Linked DNA regions of Homo sapiens. The protein of the gene in region 1 purifies or fractionates together with the protein of each later gene. This does not show direct contact. Each region holds a gene or a part of one and is shown on either strand. Other genes may lie near its edges.

Evidence for each region.
Region 2: the proteins of SOS1 (region 1) and EPS8 purify together in Homo sapiens (affinity purification with western blotting; 5 studies listed by BioGRID and IntAct, with this or other methods). This does not show direct contact.

What each region holds. Positions count from the first base shown.
Region 1 is NC_000002.12:39,019,402-39,027,841, reverse strand, and holds part of SOS1 (son of sevenless homolog 1), read left to right. Parts: intron 1-3,704; coding exon 3,705-3,832; intron 3,833-4,616; coding exon 4,617-5,272; intron 5,273-8,440.
Region 2 is NC_000012.12:15,779,389-15,786,388, reverse strand, and holds part of EPS8 (epidermal growth factor receptor kinase substrate 8), read left to right. Parts: intron 1-7,000. UniProt on the Homo sapiens protein: Signaling adapter that controls various cellular protrusions by regulating actin cytoskeleton dynamics and architecture. Depending on its association with other signal transducers, can regulate different processes.

The DNA.
Region 1 (8,440 bases):
AAAAAAAAAAATAATAATATGATTCCCTAGATGAGTTTAAGTACAATCTCATATGGTAATATAATCTCAGGATTTAGTACTTTTTTTAAAACTATTCAAATAAACTGCCTTTGTACAAATGTAATTGTTACTATTGCACATTATTATTAAATAGGCACTCATGAAAAGCATGGTATTGAATATCACTGGTAACAAGAGGATGCTGCTTTGTTGAGTCTCATTTACATACTAATTGCCACTGCTTTGTCTCTGTAGCCACAATAAGCCACCCTTTTGATGGTAGTTAGCTTGAATTATATTGCACCAGTGCCAAGTTTAAATTAGCTATGTTAAGTAAAAGAAGCAAAAAGTGGTAGAAGAAAGGTCATTTATTACACTGAAATTTATTTTAGAGGCTTGCCTAATGCTATAAAGGTAAAAATGACATTTTAAAAGTATTTCATCAGGAAAGTTTTATGGGTTTGAAATGTACTTTGGGTTTGTGGCTTTTAAAATATTAACATTTTTGAGATACCAGAATATTCTGTATGTAAAATGCTACAGTTAAATAGTAGATAAATGATTCCAAAACTTGAAACATTTTTAGGATAGAAAATCAAAGGATGTCCAAGTGGATTTTTTCTTTTATAAATATTTTTATGTGTATGAGAATTATATATTTTGTCTACCATTAGGTATGTTTTCCTGAATTAAAAATATAAAAAATGTATCCAGGACAAAATATCAAATGCTCAATATTCTGCTACCTGTTAGTTATTTAAGACCGAAAAATTGCCTTGTATCTTACTGACTTGAATTTCTCTGGGCTTTGCTTTTGAGTGATTAAATTCTCAATCAACTCAGTGAACTAATTCATCGTTCAGTGGTGCTTTCATTAAATTTGCCTTAAGGTATACAGCAAGCTTGTCTAACCCCCGGCCCAACACAAATTTGTAAACTTTCTTAAAACATTATGAGATTTTTTTGCAATTTTTAAAAAGCTCATCAGCTCTCGTTAGTGTTAGTATATTTTATGTGTGGCCCAAGATAATAATTCTTCCAGTTTGGCCCAGGGAAGCCAAAATATTGGATACCCCTGGTATATAGCTTTCAATGTTAGATTATCTGCTGCTTTAAAGACTAAACTTGATAATGTTTAATGGTAACATTTTATTTGTCTCCCAGAATTCTGCCATGTGAGAGGCAAATAGTTTCAAATGATAGGGATGGAAGGTACTTTGAGAGATTACCTGGATTCCAGCCTTCAGCCTACTAGTAATATCTGTTAAGTAAAAACCTAGTATCTTTCTTTATGAACCCTGGCCATTGGCTTTCTTTAATCTAGCTGGCCATATTGAAGAACAATATTATGAATAAAAGATATTTGATTTTTGTATTAATATGTACACTTTTAAAGTCTCTTATCCTTTGGAAAATATCTTTCGTTACCCTTTTTATGTTGAGAATTGTTAGGAATAAATTTTTCTGTTTTTTTTTTTTTTTTTTTTGAGACGGAGTCTCACTCTGTTGCCCAGGCTGGAGTGCAGTGGCACGATCACGGCTCACTGCAACCTCTGACCCCTGAGTTCAGGCGATTCTTCTGCCTCAGCCTCCCGAGTAGCTGGGACTACAGGCGTGTGCCACCACACCCAGCTAATTTTTGTATTTTTAGTAGAGACGGGGTTTTACCATATTGGCCAGGCTGGTCTCAAACTCCTGACCTCGTGATCCCCCCGCCTCAGCCTCCCAAAGTGCTGGGATTACAGGCATGAACCACCGTGCCCAGCCTAAATTTTTCTTTTACTTAACACAGTTAAGACTGAAAATTTTCCTAAAAATGTAGATTATGCCTCTAGTAGAAAGTATGGTGAGTTTTTAATAATGAATATAAGAAATCTGGATAATAAAAGCTAAGTATTAAACATTACAATATGGTATTCATTACTTCTAGAATATTTGACCATTAAAGTATTTTAAGTAAATTTTAATAAAAATGGTTTAGAATATAAGTAAGAAATCTGTTTACTTTTCACAGGTCATCAGTGCATGTGGTATGTGCATGCGCATGCATGTAACTGATTTTTATCAATTGAAGCAGAAAGGAATGTGTTGTTGACCTTTAAGGAATACCTGTGAAAAACACAAAATCCTTAAAGTACTAATGTACTAATGAATACTTAAGCTAATTGAAAAGTAAACTTCTAGCCAGGCATGGTGGCTTACGCCTGTAATCCCAGCACTTTGGGAGGCCGAAGCAGGCAGATCACTTGAGGTCAGGAGTTTGAGACCAGCCTGGCTAACATGGTGAAAACTTGTCTCTACTAGAAGTAAAAAAAAAAAAAAAAATCAGTCAGGTGTGGTGACAGACACCCGTAATCGCAGCTACTCGGGAGGCTGAGGCAGGAGAACTACTTGAAGCTGGGAGGCAGAGGTTGCAGTGAGCTGAGATTGCACCGCTGCACCCTAGCCTGGGGTACAGAGCAAGACTCCATCTAAAAAAAAAAAAGAAAAATAAACTTCTTTATAAATCACTTTGAATATTTCATGATTGTGTATCTCAAGTCTTTTCATTCATGGTAGAGAGTAGGTATTCCTAAATTGTTGGATGAAAACTCTATTGATAAAATGTTATTTTATTTTATTTTAATAGACGGTATCTCAAACTCGTAGGCTTAAGCGATCCTCCCACCTGGGCCTCCCAAAGTGCTGAGATTATAGGCATAGGCCATTGCAGCCAGCCAATATGTGATTTCTTAACTTTTCCTTTTGGTAACCAGGAACAGGTTTAAGATGTATGAGTGAATTATTGTGACTCATACATCTGTTAAGTGCTTGCTTGAATCATAGCCACCTTACTGTATTGACAATTAGTTACTGATGACTTAGTTCTTGTTAAGTAGAGACGTTCTGTCTGACACAGATATTTGCCAGTAATAGAAAATATGCTTGAGTTTCAGTTTCATAAATATGTATATTATAGCTTCACTCAAAATCTTAATGTGGATATGGACAAAGTTCTTTATTATACTAATGTTAATTCTGTAGTATAATTACAAAGAAAACCATTTACACTTACATTGTGTGTTACCATTTACAAAGTGCTTTGGTTTTTAATAACAACCCCTAAAAGTAGGCAGGGTAGGCTTTTTATAAGCCTTATTTGGCAAATGGGAAAAGTAAGACTCAGAGATCAAGTGACTTGCCCCAAGGTCACACAGAAGTAGAGTCAAAATTTGATCCTAGATTTTGTAATTGAGATTCCTTCTACTATATTGCATCGTTCTCTGTATATTTATCTTCCTTATCATCTCAATATTATATAACAATAATATAGGGGTCAGAAACCTAAGACCAAATTCCACACTTAAAAAAAAAAAAACCTCGTCTACATGCTTAGTGGTATGCTAACTCTATGATAATTCAGTAGATCGATTATGCTCCCCATTTCTTTTCAGTGGTATGCACCTTGAAAAACTACATATTACTGCCTGTCACAAGATATAACCCATCTTAACACTGCTAATCTTGGTCTTTTAATGTAGAAAACTTGGTTGTGTATTAATAGTAACACACAAGAAAAACACTTTTAAAAAGAATATTTGATGACACATTTAAAATTTTTATTGTGACAGTTGAATAAATGTTATTTTTATCCTTAAATGAGTTTATTATTATTTTATCCAAAAATGTACTACTGGTTCAGATTTGTCATTTTGGCTTTACAGCAGTTAGAAGAAAAAAGTGAAGATCAAGAAGACAAGGAATGTTTAAAACAAGCAATAACAGCTTTGCTTAATGTTCAGAGTGGTATGGAAAAAATATGTTCTAAAAGTCTTGCAAAACGAAGACTGAGGTGAATATTTTTACTTTTTAAAATATCCTTTTTTCCCTGAATATTGTGGTGTAAATTCAGGGATCCCAGTTCCCTCCTCAAGTAAACAATGAAGAAAATAGTTTTAGTGACAAGCCTGGTCTTTTAGAGGAAGTGACATCAAAGCCAAGAGAATTGTTATTGTTTGAAAAACCTTTCATATTTGTGCATTTTCCTTGCATACTCCCAGACAAGACCTCCTGAGAGTCAACTGGTAAGCTGAAGGAGAGACAGAGTAAAATGTATCGGGTAGATTTATGTTGGCATCGTTATTCTGTCAAAGTAAAATTATTAGTGTCCTTTATTTTAGGGATTATATAACTTGAGGCATTAATTCAGATAACATTGCTTCCACTTTCCTGATTATAATATGTGCTACATGTTTTTAGCTTTGGGTCTTGTCCATTTAAACTCTTCTAAATAATTTATTTTAATCTTTCAGATTACTTTTTTTTACTGTATTGGGCTACTTTTTATTAGTTGTCATTCTAAATATTTAGTAGCCAAGATAGAAATAATCATTTTGTAGTTACATTTAAGGAGAATTTTGTCAGCAATCATTGTGCTTTTTAGAACACTGAAAAAAATTTCTAGGTTGCTTTAATTTTCAAAATTGTGTAATTTTGTAATTCTAATCTATTTGGGGAATTAGTGAATACCTTCTCAGTGAGACTTGTAAAAATCTACTTTTACACTTTCCCTTACTTACATGAGCTCTAGGTTTTCTGTCATCTATGTACTAATAATGTCTTTTTCTTTATTCCAGTGAATCTGCATGTCGGTTTTATAGTCAGCAAATGAAGGGGAAACAACTAGCAATCAAGAAGATGAACGAGATTCAGAAGAATATTGATGGTTGGGAGGGAAAAGACATTGGACAGTGTTGTAATGAATTTATAATGGAAGGAACTCTTACACGTGTAGGAGCCAAACATGAGAGACACATATTTCTCTTTGATGGCTTAATGATTTGCTGTAAATCAAATCATGGGCAGCCAAGACTTCCTGGTGCTAGCAATGCAGAATATCGTCTTAAAGAAAAGTTTTTTATGCGAAAGGTACAAATTAATGATAAAGATGACACCAATGAATACAAGCATGCTTTTGAAATAATTTTAAAAGATGAAAATAGTGTTATATTTTCTGCCAAGTCAGCTGAAGAGAAAAACAATTGGATGGCAGCATTGATATCTTTACAGTACCGGAGTACACTGGAAAGGATGCTTGATGTAACAATGCTACAGGAAGAGAAAGAGGAGCAGATGAGGCTGCCTAGTGCTGATGTTTATAGATTTGCAGAGCCTGACTCTGAAGAGAATATTATATTTGAAGAGAACATGCAGCCCAAGGCTGGAATTCCAATTATCAAAGCAGGAACTGTTATTAAACTTATAGAGAGGCTTACGTACCATATGTACGCAGGTAAGAATTATGCAGTTGCCTGTCACTTTTGTTTTCCTGCTTCAAACTGATTTTCTTTCCTGCATGGGTTTATTGTGCCTAAAATAGAAAAGAAACTAACAACCAAAGACCTCTTTTCTTTGACTAAAAATACCCCACTTTATATTTCTTTGGAATGTTTTACTTTTTCTACTACACTTAAATACTTTTTTTTAACCTTACCATCAGTTATAGATGAGAAAATGAGGTCACTTGGCTAAATTTATCCAGTTAGAAAGTGACAGAAACAAGACTAAAGTTAGTAGTAAATCATCATTATTGGGATCTAAAAAGTTTTTTACTCCTTTATCTTTTTTTTCTTTCTTCTTTTTCCATTTCTGAGATTATAAATAAAAATTTTAATATAACAAAATTGTGCTGGTAGTACAAATATACACGGCATTGCTTTCTCTCAGTTTCCACTCCTAAACCTGATTATTTAATAATAAATGTTGCAATCCTGGAAGCCAAGGATTCCAGTTTTATTATAATTTTTCACCTAGAAATGTCTATAGTCAGTGTATTTATTTTACTGACCCAAAAATTTAAAAAATCATAGGAAATGTAAATAGGCTGCCTAGATTTTACATGAAAAACAAATAGGTTATTGTCATTTTTTTCCATATAAAGCTGTTTTTTGAGAGGTACAATTTTTCGGTAGTATGACCTGCCGATTTAGTTGTGCTTCACCAACCTTTTCTATGTTCTTTATGATCTAGACTACAACTATAAAAATGTTTTTTATTCAGTTACCCAAAATTTGTGATTGCAAAATACTTCTTTTCTGCTTAAGAGATTTTTAAGGCTATAAAAGTTCAAATTGCCCTTCTTGCCACATTTTCCTGGTTTTTAAGTCCCCTTAGAGGACTCATAGAATTTTTATAACATGAGCATTCTAAACTTTATCATTTCATCCTAAGTACTTTTGTTTGGGGTTCCTAGACTCATTTGGAGTAAAATTAATCTTTAGATTTTTCTCTGTGTTTGTAAGAAAGAAGTTTTAATTTTTTTTTTTTTTTTTTTTTTCCTGTAGAGCATTGTAAGAAGACTTACTACTAGTGTTTACTGTCACAAGTCAGTGATACTTGGGCAGGAAAACATTTTCAAATTACAAAATTTTTAATTGTTTCTGTAAGACTTGATTGAGTGATAGAAGTTTTCTCTAAATTGCTATATTTCACAAAGTTAATTTATGATTATTAATAAGCAGCTGAAGAATGGTTACAACTATTGTCTGGGGAACTGTCCCTTTTATTTATTTTTTTAAATGAGGACACTTTAAAGCAAAATTAACTGGAACAAGCTGATACTTGTTTTGTAGTCCTGAAAGTCTTCTTTCCTTAATGTGTACAATGTTAGGTAAAGTCCGTGGACATGGTACTTTTGTAATGATGTTTTATTAGTTATTTCTGTCTGATACTTCTTTTCTATATCAATTTTTAGCTTTGGTATAGAGTAATATTTTGAGTGCTTTTACTTATAATGAATATAAAACACTTAAATTTCAAGATTTATAGAACTTTGCCAAAGTTAAGTGTATTGAAAATTTAAGTTGATGAGATTATTTTACTTAAAAAAAATGTTTTTAAAAAATTCCTTCCAATAATTTTTTGAGAAATAAAAGGCCAGTGTTGTGGCTAAGTTTTTTGATATTTTTCTTTTCTGTCTTCTTTTGAAGCTTAACTGAATATTTTAATTTATGTCATAAATATATTACTGGTGAAACTGGAGTCTACAAGCAGCTTTCGTGAGTTGTGGTTTACAGTACACACACATTAGTGTTAACTGTTAGCTTATTTGGGCTATTCTGTAAGGTCTGTTACTGAAGTTATTACTGGCAACATAGAATGGTTTTTAATAGACCATCTGTGAACTTGTAAAACTGAAATGGACTTTTAAGGCCTCACTACAATGGTAACAGATCAAGTTACCATTTGTTTTTAAGAACTACTGGTCTGCTCTTCTCCTCTCATCTTTCTTCAGCCTCCCCAAAGAGAAAAGGGATTTGTGATTTGGTTAGTAGGTATGTTTATTGGAGAACATGCAGTACAGGTTGTGGCTTACACTGAAACAAAGCTAACATTTAACTTACACATTTTTATTTTATTATATAGAATTGTAATAAAAGACATTGGATATAATACATGAGAAAATTTAATGAATACTATAAGACACGACTTACAGACATCTTTTAGATTATTATAGTTTGGTTAGACATTGTCATAAAAACAGAAGAGAAACTGGTTTAACCTTACTTTATTCAGACTTCACTGTGGTGTCAGCCAACTTTATCCCTCAAATATTTTAACAGTAATGTACAAAATGGAGCTATAGATCTCTAATGCTAGAAGAGATGCCCAAGCCTTCACTTTGTAGACAAATCCCAAGGCCCCTGAAGATTATATGATTTCCCAGAAGTTCTATTACGAGTTAATTCCAGAACAAGTCAAGAATTAGGTTTCTTGACTCTAAATAGAGTATATTTTCTACCATGTTACATTGACTCATATAAGGTGATTGTTTTCATGAATAGAATATGTTGTAATTTTTTAATTATATGTGTTAATAATTAAGTAAAAGGATCTGGTACAGATGTGAGCTCAAAAAAAATAAATAAATTACTTCCTTGGTTTGAACTGCCAATAATATAAATGGCTTGTTCATTTCTGGGCAAACGTGCGTACTATGAAGATATTGTCAGTAATTTTTTTTTCTTGAAATAGGATATAGGTAAGCTCTGACTATAGATACACTTCCATTGGAATGCATAGATTTTTTATGTATAGATACTGGTCATTATTATTATTTTTATTTTTTTACAAAACCCAATTATTAGTCTATTGATGTAGTTTGCTCACTAAAGGGAAAGCTTTGTGGAAAGAAAAATTTAAATTTAGGTGAATTAGAAAGTGGTTAACTTGCTTAAAAGATTGCAACAGGGTCTTAGGTGGAATCTAATTTATAGCTTGTCTCTCAGATTCGGTGTTTCTGGATGTATCATAATTTGCTGACTATATCAGAACTTTGGGGTTTGTCCCAAAAACTAGGGGAAAAATTATCCAATTGGATGGATCATTCTAAATCTGGCAATGGTATGAAGAGACTATTTCCTTATCCTAAGTAAGAAAGCACAAAGCAATATGCACAAAT
Region 2 (7,000 bases), on another chromosome or scaffold:
TTGTTAGACTTCCTTGTTTTTGATGATGTTTGAGGAGTACTGGTCAGGTATTTTGTAGAATACATTTGCATTGGAATTCATCTAATGTTTTTTCTCATGATTAGACTGTGATTATAGGTTTTTGGTAGAAAGATCACAGAGGTAACGTGCCATTTTCATCTCATATCAAGGGTATATACTATCAGTATGATTTGTCACTGTGATACTCATCTTTATCACCTGGCTGAGATAGTGTTTATCAGATTTTTCCACTTTTCTCCACCTTTTTCATGCTGTGCTCTTAGAAGGAAGGAACTGTGTATAGCCTATACTTAAGGAGTAGAGAGTTATGCTTCCCCCTTTGATGGTAGAAATCTATATAAATTATTTGGATATTTTTCTCCGTGGGAGATTTGTCTCTTCTCCCCCATGTATTTATTTACTCAATCATATTTATTTTGTTCTGGACTCATGGATATATATATATTATATAAATATAAAATCTATCTATCTATCTAAATATTTTGGGTTATAATACAATGCTACTTTGTTACAGCTTGACTCCAGTGCCTCTTTGACATACTACCATCAATGTGAATTTTGTTTTTTTGGAAGCATTTCCTTACTTTCTGGTATTATGAGATGCTCTAGGTTCATCTGTATACATCTTGCCACAGTCCTAGAATCAGTCATTTCTCCAAGGAATCTGGATCATTTTGTTGGGGAATGGTGTTAGAAACCAAGATCTGGGTGCTAGGTGTGCTTGTTGCTACTGTGGTATCATTGCTTCTAGGTTCTCTCATGTGACAAAGCAAGAAATACATGTGTGTATATGAACATATCTGTACATATTTTTATGTAACAGTTTGTATCCATGTTTAACTATGAATTTACATTTTATCTGTAATGCTAATTCATTACCACAGGTATCATTCTAGCCTTCTCCCTTTGTTTATATGTAAACTTACTCCAACAGTGAGAAGAAACCTGGTTTGCACCATCTGCCATACATTTGCTTAATCATTCATTTCTATCATAGATGTATAGCAGCATTGGAATTGTTAACCTGTGCTCCCATGGGAAACAACTTTAGCATCAAGAGTACAGTGTTTATGTACTATTCCTTTTGCTTTTAGTCTCACAGCTTCTACTCATTTCTAGAGTTAGTCAGCTAAGCACCTTTCCTCCTATCCTTTTCAGTGAGATTGTAGCACACATTTATAATACAGTTAGATTTCTTTGTTACAATCTGCATTCCACCTTGGGATTCCTTGACCTTCTAAATGATTTGCTTACGTTTGCATACATTAAAGTTTACTCTTTGTCCTGTGAAGTTCTTTGGGTTTTGACAAATACTTAATTTGATGTAGCTATCCTTATAGGATCATAGTATCATACCGAATAATTTCAACACATTACAAATCCCCTGGGCTTCACTCATAACCTCTGTGAGCCCCTCTCCCAGAAAACCACGTATCTTTTTACTGTCTCTTTACTTTTGCCTTTTCCAGATGTTGTATAATTGGAATCATACAGCCTTGCCAGACTGGCTTCTTTCATTTAGCAATACACATTTAAGGTTCATCCATGTCTTCCTGAGGTTTAATAGCTCATTTCTTTCTATCATTATCAGATATATCATGGTTTGTTTATTCACCTATTGAAGGATATTTTGGTTGCTTCCAGTTTTTGGCAAGTATGAACGAAGCTGCTATGAATATTCACATGCAGGTTTTTGGGTAGACATAAGTTCTTATATCCGTTGGATAAATATCTAGAAGTGCGATTGCTGGATCCTGTGGTAAGATTATGGTTAGCTTTGTAAGAAATTGCCAAACTGTTTTCCGAAGTGGCTGTACTATTACATTCTCACCAGCAATGAATGTGAGTTCTTATTGCCCCACATCTTTGCTAGCATTTGATTTTGTCAGCTTTTTTGGATTTTACCCATTCTAGTAGGTGTGTAGTAATATGTCATTGTTACTTTAATTTACTATTTCCTAATGACATATGATGTTAACATCTTTTCACATACCCCTTTTCATCTGTACATCTTCTGTGGTGTGATGGCTGTTCAGATCATTTGCCCACTTTTTAATGGGGTTGTTTTCTTATTGTTGATTTTAAGAGTTCTTTATACATTTTGTATACAGGCACTTTATCAGATATGTGTTTTGCAAATATTTTCTCCCAGTTTGGTTTGTCTTTTTATTTTCCTAACAGTGTCTTTGTCAGAACAGATGTCTTTAATTTTAATAAGGCCAACTTACCAATTTCATGGATAGGCTTTTGTGTTATATTTGAAAACTCATTGCCAAGGCTACATAGATTTTATCCTGTGTTTTTCCTAGAAGTTTTATAGTTTTGCATTTTACATTTAGGTATGTGATCCATTTAGAGTTAATTTTTATGAAAGGTATAAGGTCTGTGTCTAGATTAATTTTTTTTTTGCATATGGATTCCTAGTTGTACCAGCACAAGTAAATGTGATTTTTAAATTAATAGATTATAAATTGCTTAGAATTGAAAATGTTTTTATTAAAATTTTTATTACATGTTCTGCAAAATTACTTACTGTAAACAGTTGAGAAATGACTTAGAAACCAATATATAATACAGCATGTACTGTGTGCTGAGATTTATTTCTAGACATTGTACATAATTCATTTTCCTCTTTTTTTTTTTTTTTTTTTTACTAACTCAGAGATGCTTCTTTGTGAAAATGGAATTGTTAGTATAGAGTAACATCTGTCAGTTCTTTTAGATCTTATCATAGGGAATAATAGTTTGATTTTTCACAAAAAGGATCTGGAATAAAGGATTTGCAGGGTGTATGTTGAGAAGAGGCAGTTGATGTATGCACCAGCTAGAAATCTGAGACTTAACTATGTGGTCTTGAATCTTTTCCCATGCTATTCTTCCTGCTACAAGTGACTTTTTTCAAGTACAGTTGACCCTTCAATAGTGCAGCGGTTAGACTCACTGACCCCTGCACAGTCAGAAATTTTTGTATAATTTTTGACTTCCCAAAAACTTAACTAGTAACCCTTCTGTTGACTGGAAGCCTTACTGATAACACAGTCTGTTAACACACATTTTGTATATTATATGTATATTACATTGTATTCTTACAATAAACTACAGAAAAGAAAATTTTATTAGGAAAACCATAAGGGAGAGAAAATCCAGTACTGTATTGTACTTATTGATATTGTAAGTTTTTGTTTGCTTACCAGATGACTCCTCTTTCTGAAAAGGTGGGGGAATGGAGGGGCAGGGCTGGGAACTGCAGCTGCAGACCTCAATCTATGGTACATACCAAGCAATTCAACTTTATCTCTCATAATGTCATGACTTTTCTCTGTTTCTTGGGAGCATTTCTGGCATCTCTAGTGGCACGTTTTCATTCAAGGTTTATGGTATTGTACCAAACAGGATGAAAAATACAAGAGAACACCAAGAAATCATTTTTTACTGTGATACACAATTTACCGGAGAGATGAACTGCTCACGCAGAGATGATTAACATCACACAGTGGACTAAGCGGTTACTCACAACACTTGAGCTCGCTGCAATAACAACAGGAGGTGGCTATGAAATTATTACAGTAGTACAGTATGTACTACAGTTAATTGTATGCAGTTAGGACTTAATACTGCATCTTTACATTTGTTTACATTTCTCTTGACCGCGAATGATACTATGTATCGTGTGTGTGTAAGTTTTGATAAATTTTAATTTTTTCTAATAAATTTTATGGTTACTACCATAAAATGATAAAGTAGACTAGTATTTATATACATATTATGCATTCATGACATACCTAACTTTTTTCTTAATGTTTTTGTTATCCTGGCTACGTGGTTTGTCTGTGTTTTTATTGTATTTATTTATTTAAAAAAATTTTTTGAGACAGAGTCTCACTGTCACCCAGGCTGGAGTGCAGTGGCGCCATCTTGGGCCTACTGCAGCCTCAACCACCCAGGCCCAGGTGATCCTCCCCATTCAGCCTTCTGAATAGCTGGAACCATAGGCATGTATCACCAGGCCTGGCTAATTTATTTTTATTTTTATTTTTTGCAGAGACAGGATCTCTCTGTGTTGTCCAGGATGGTTTTGAACTCCCAGGCACAAGCAGTTCTTCCAAGTTGGCCTCCCAAAGTGCTGGTATTACAGGCATGAGCCACCACACCCAGCCCGAGTGTTTTTAAATTGTCACAAATCTCCAAAAATTTTTCCAAATATATTTATTGAAAAAAATCTGTGTATAAGTGGACCCATGTAGTTCAAACCTGGCTTTTCAAAAGTCAAATGTACCTCTCTTTTGGTATACATTTTGTGTTATTGATATTGTGATGTACTATAGTTTACATATTTGTCCTCTCCAAAACTCATGTTGAAATTTCATCCTCAATGTGAGAGTGTTGAGAGGTGAGGCCTTTAAGAAGTGATTGATCCATTCATGAATTAATGGATTAAGGGGTTATCATGGGAGTGGGACTGGTGGCTTTGTAAGAAAAGGAAGAGAGACTTGAGTGAGCACATGAGCACACTCAGCCCCCTTGCCCTGTGATGCTCTCTGTTGTCCTGGGATTCTTGGAGAGTCCCCACCAGCAAGGAGGCTCTTAGCAGATGTAGCCCCTCGACCATGGACTTCTTAACCTCCATAACTGTAAGACATAAATTCCTTTTCTTTAGAATTACCCATTTCAGGTATTCTGTTATAAGCAACAGAAAACAGAGTAGGACAGGATTAGAAATATTTATAATGTTGCACTAAAGTTAGAACCAGTAGTCTTCAAGAAGCAGGTGGAGCAGCTCACATAATAATAGTACCTTTTGTGTGGCAGGTGTTACATACATTATCTTCTTTCACTGTTACAAGAGCCCTTTAAGGCATGCTTCTTTATCTCAGAATTACAGATAAAGGAATAGGCCCAGAAAGAAAAAGTGACTTGTGTCACACATGGGGAGAAAGGGACCGAATTGGGATGAGAACCCTGACCTGACTCCAAAATCCATGCCCTTTCCACTTGGTTGTGCTGCCCTTATTAAAGAAAAAGGGCAAGGATGGCCAGAGTGTCCTTAATTACATTCTTTTATTTAATACTGTGCTATATACTTGCTCAAATTACTACTGTGCCAAACAAGAATAGCGAAAAAGTTTGTGTATTTAAGCTCCACAAAGATTCTTCTAGCTTTGTTTTCTGTTGACTCATCTGTATCCTACTGACCAGAGGTATGTGGTGATGGAACACGGTTGTTTTAAAGAATGAGGATCTTTTAAAAAGAAACATTTGTGGGGAATTAGACAAAATAAAGCAAATAATGGTAGCATTAGCTAGTTATTTCTTTCTTTCCCTCATTGTATTTAAAGCTTCTCAAGGGCAGGGAACTGAGTCAGTTAAGTTCCCTGATGTATTTAAGGCCAACATATGACCATATGTGTCAGCCATATGACACACTCACAAAAGGCTTGCTGAATGAAATTAGCACTTATTATCATATTTTTACATAAATACTTAAAAGGGCATGAGTTTTCCTCACATAGGAAGTTGAGCATTACTACATTTCATTTGTTTATTCATTCATCTTTTATCGAGTGTTTGTTGAGTATCTGTTCTGTGCCAGACACCAGGAATACAAAGATGAGTAAGACAGGATCTCTGCCTTTTGTTGTCAGAAGGCTCAGAGAATGGAGGCAGCCAGACACCCGTTTTAGTACAGTGTGGAGCTGAAGGAAGTATATATTAAAAAACAAACAAACAATGGACTTTGGAATCAGACCTTATCTGCCTTGGTTTTCTTATCAAAGAGGTGGAAATGTCAAGTAGGTACTATTATCCATGGAGGATGTTAAATGAAAAGTGTGTATGCCTGTGTGTGTGTGTGTGTGTGTGTGTGTGTGTGTGTGTGTGTGTGTGTGTTTATCCCAGCACATAGCAGAAAGGAGAGCCTCACTGTGGCCGAGGGAGTCAGAAAAGTCTTTACTGGGGAAGGTGATGTTTGAGTCTCATAGAATGAATTTTTGAGGCAAAGCGAGACGCTCATCTCTCTCCAGGTAGAAAGATGAGCATGTTTGACATGTGCGGAATAGGTTGGCATGATGGGAGTGGTGGGAAATTCTGCACATTCCCACATTCAGAGCTTACGGGAGTATTAGAAAGAACTGAATGAGCAGTTATTTTTCATTTTTGTAAGTAACAATACAATAGAGTATTCATTACATTGTAGCAGAAGAGAATAAAGATACCAAACCTGTTTAAGAATTGCATAAATCTTCTCTTCTAGTCACATGGCCTTCTAAATGTAGCTCTTTATGTAGCAAACAAATTCATGTGTTCTTTTTCAGTCCTGTGATACTCAAGTGATTATATGGAATTTAAGAAAGAGAACTTGCATGTTTTTGGGTGAAATTGGAGGTCCTGTTTCAAACCATTCTTACATTTAGTAGCATAGCAACAAAAGAATGTAATAATCTATGAAGCCAGATCTAGTCCTGTTTAAGCCTGTCTAAAATTCTAAGCCATAGTTTCTGAACAGAACCTGAAACATACTATTTAGGAATGTACTAAAAAATAACTTGTTAAATGAATTATGTGCTTGATAAGAGATCAGAGTTCTATAATTGAAAAATTGTGTTTTTAATATAAGGGGAGAAGAAAAAGAGAAAGAAAAAATAGTGAGAAAAAAGATTGATAGAAGGAAGAGAAGTTTGTACTTAAATGAGGGAGAAACATTTTTCAAGTCCCTTATTGAGGGCTGTTGAATTATCTTCTGTTAACACCATTAGAATATTACTAAGTTATTCCTTATTATAGAAATACATGTATATTATTGAGATATTTGTTGGTTTAATGCAACAATAGAATGTTTCCAGTATCTGAAGTGGAAAAACAAAGCTGCAAATAAAAATATGTGTAAAATCTGTCTCTTTTGAGAAGACATTGATTACAGTTTATCTAATTTTCTGCAATAATTTTGACATTTAAAGTTGATGGTAATTTTAGACCTGAATGT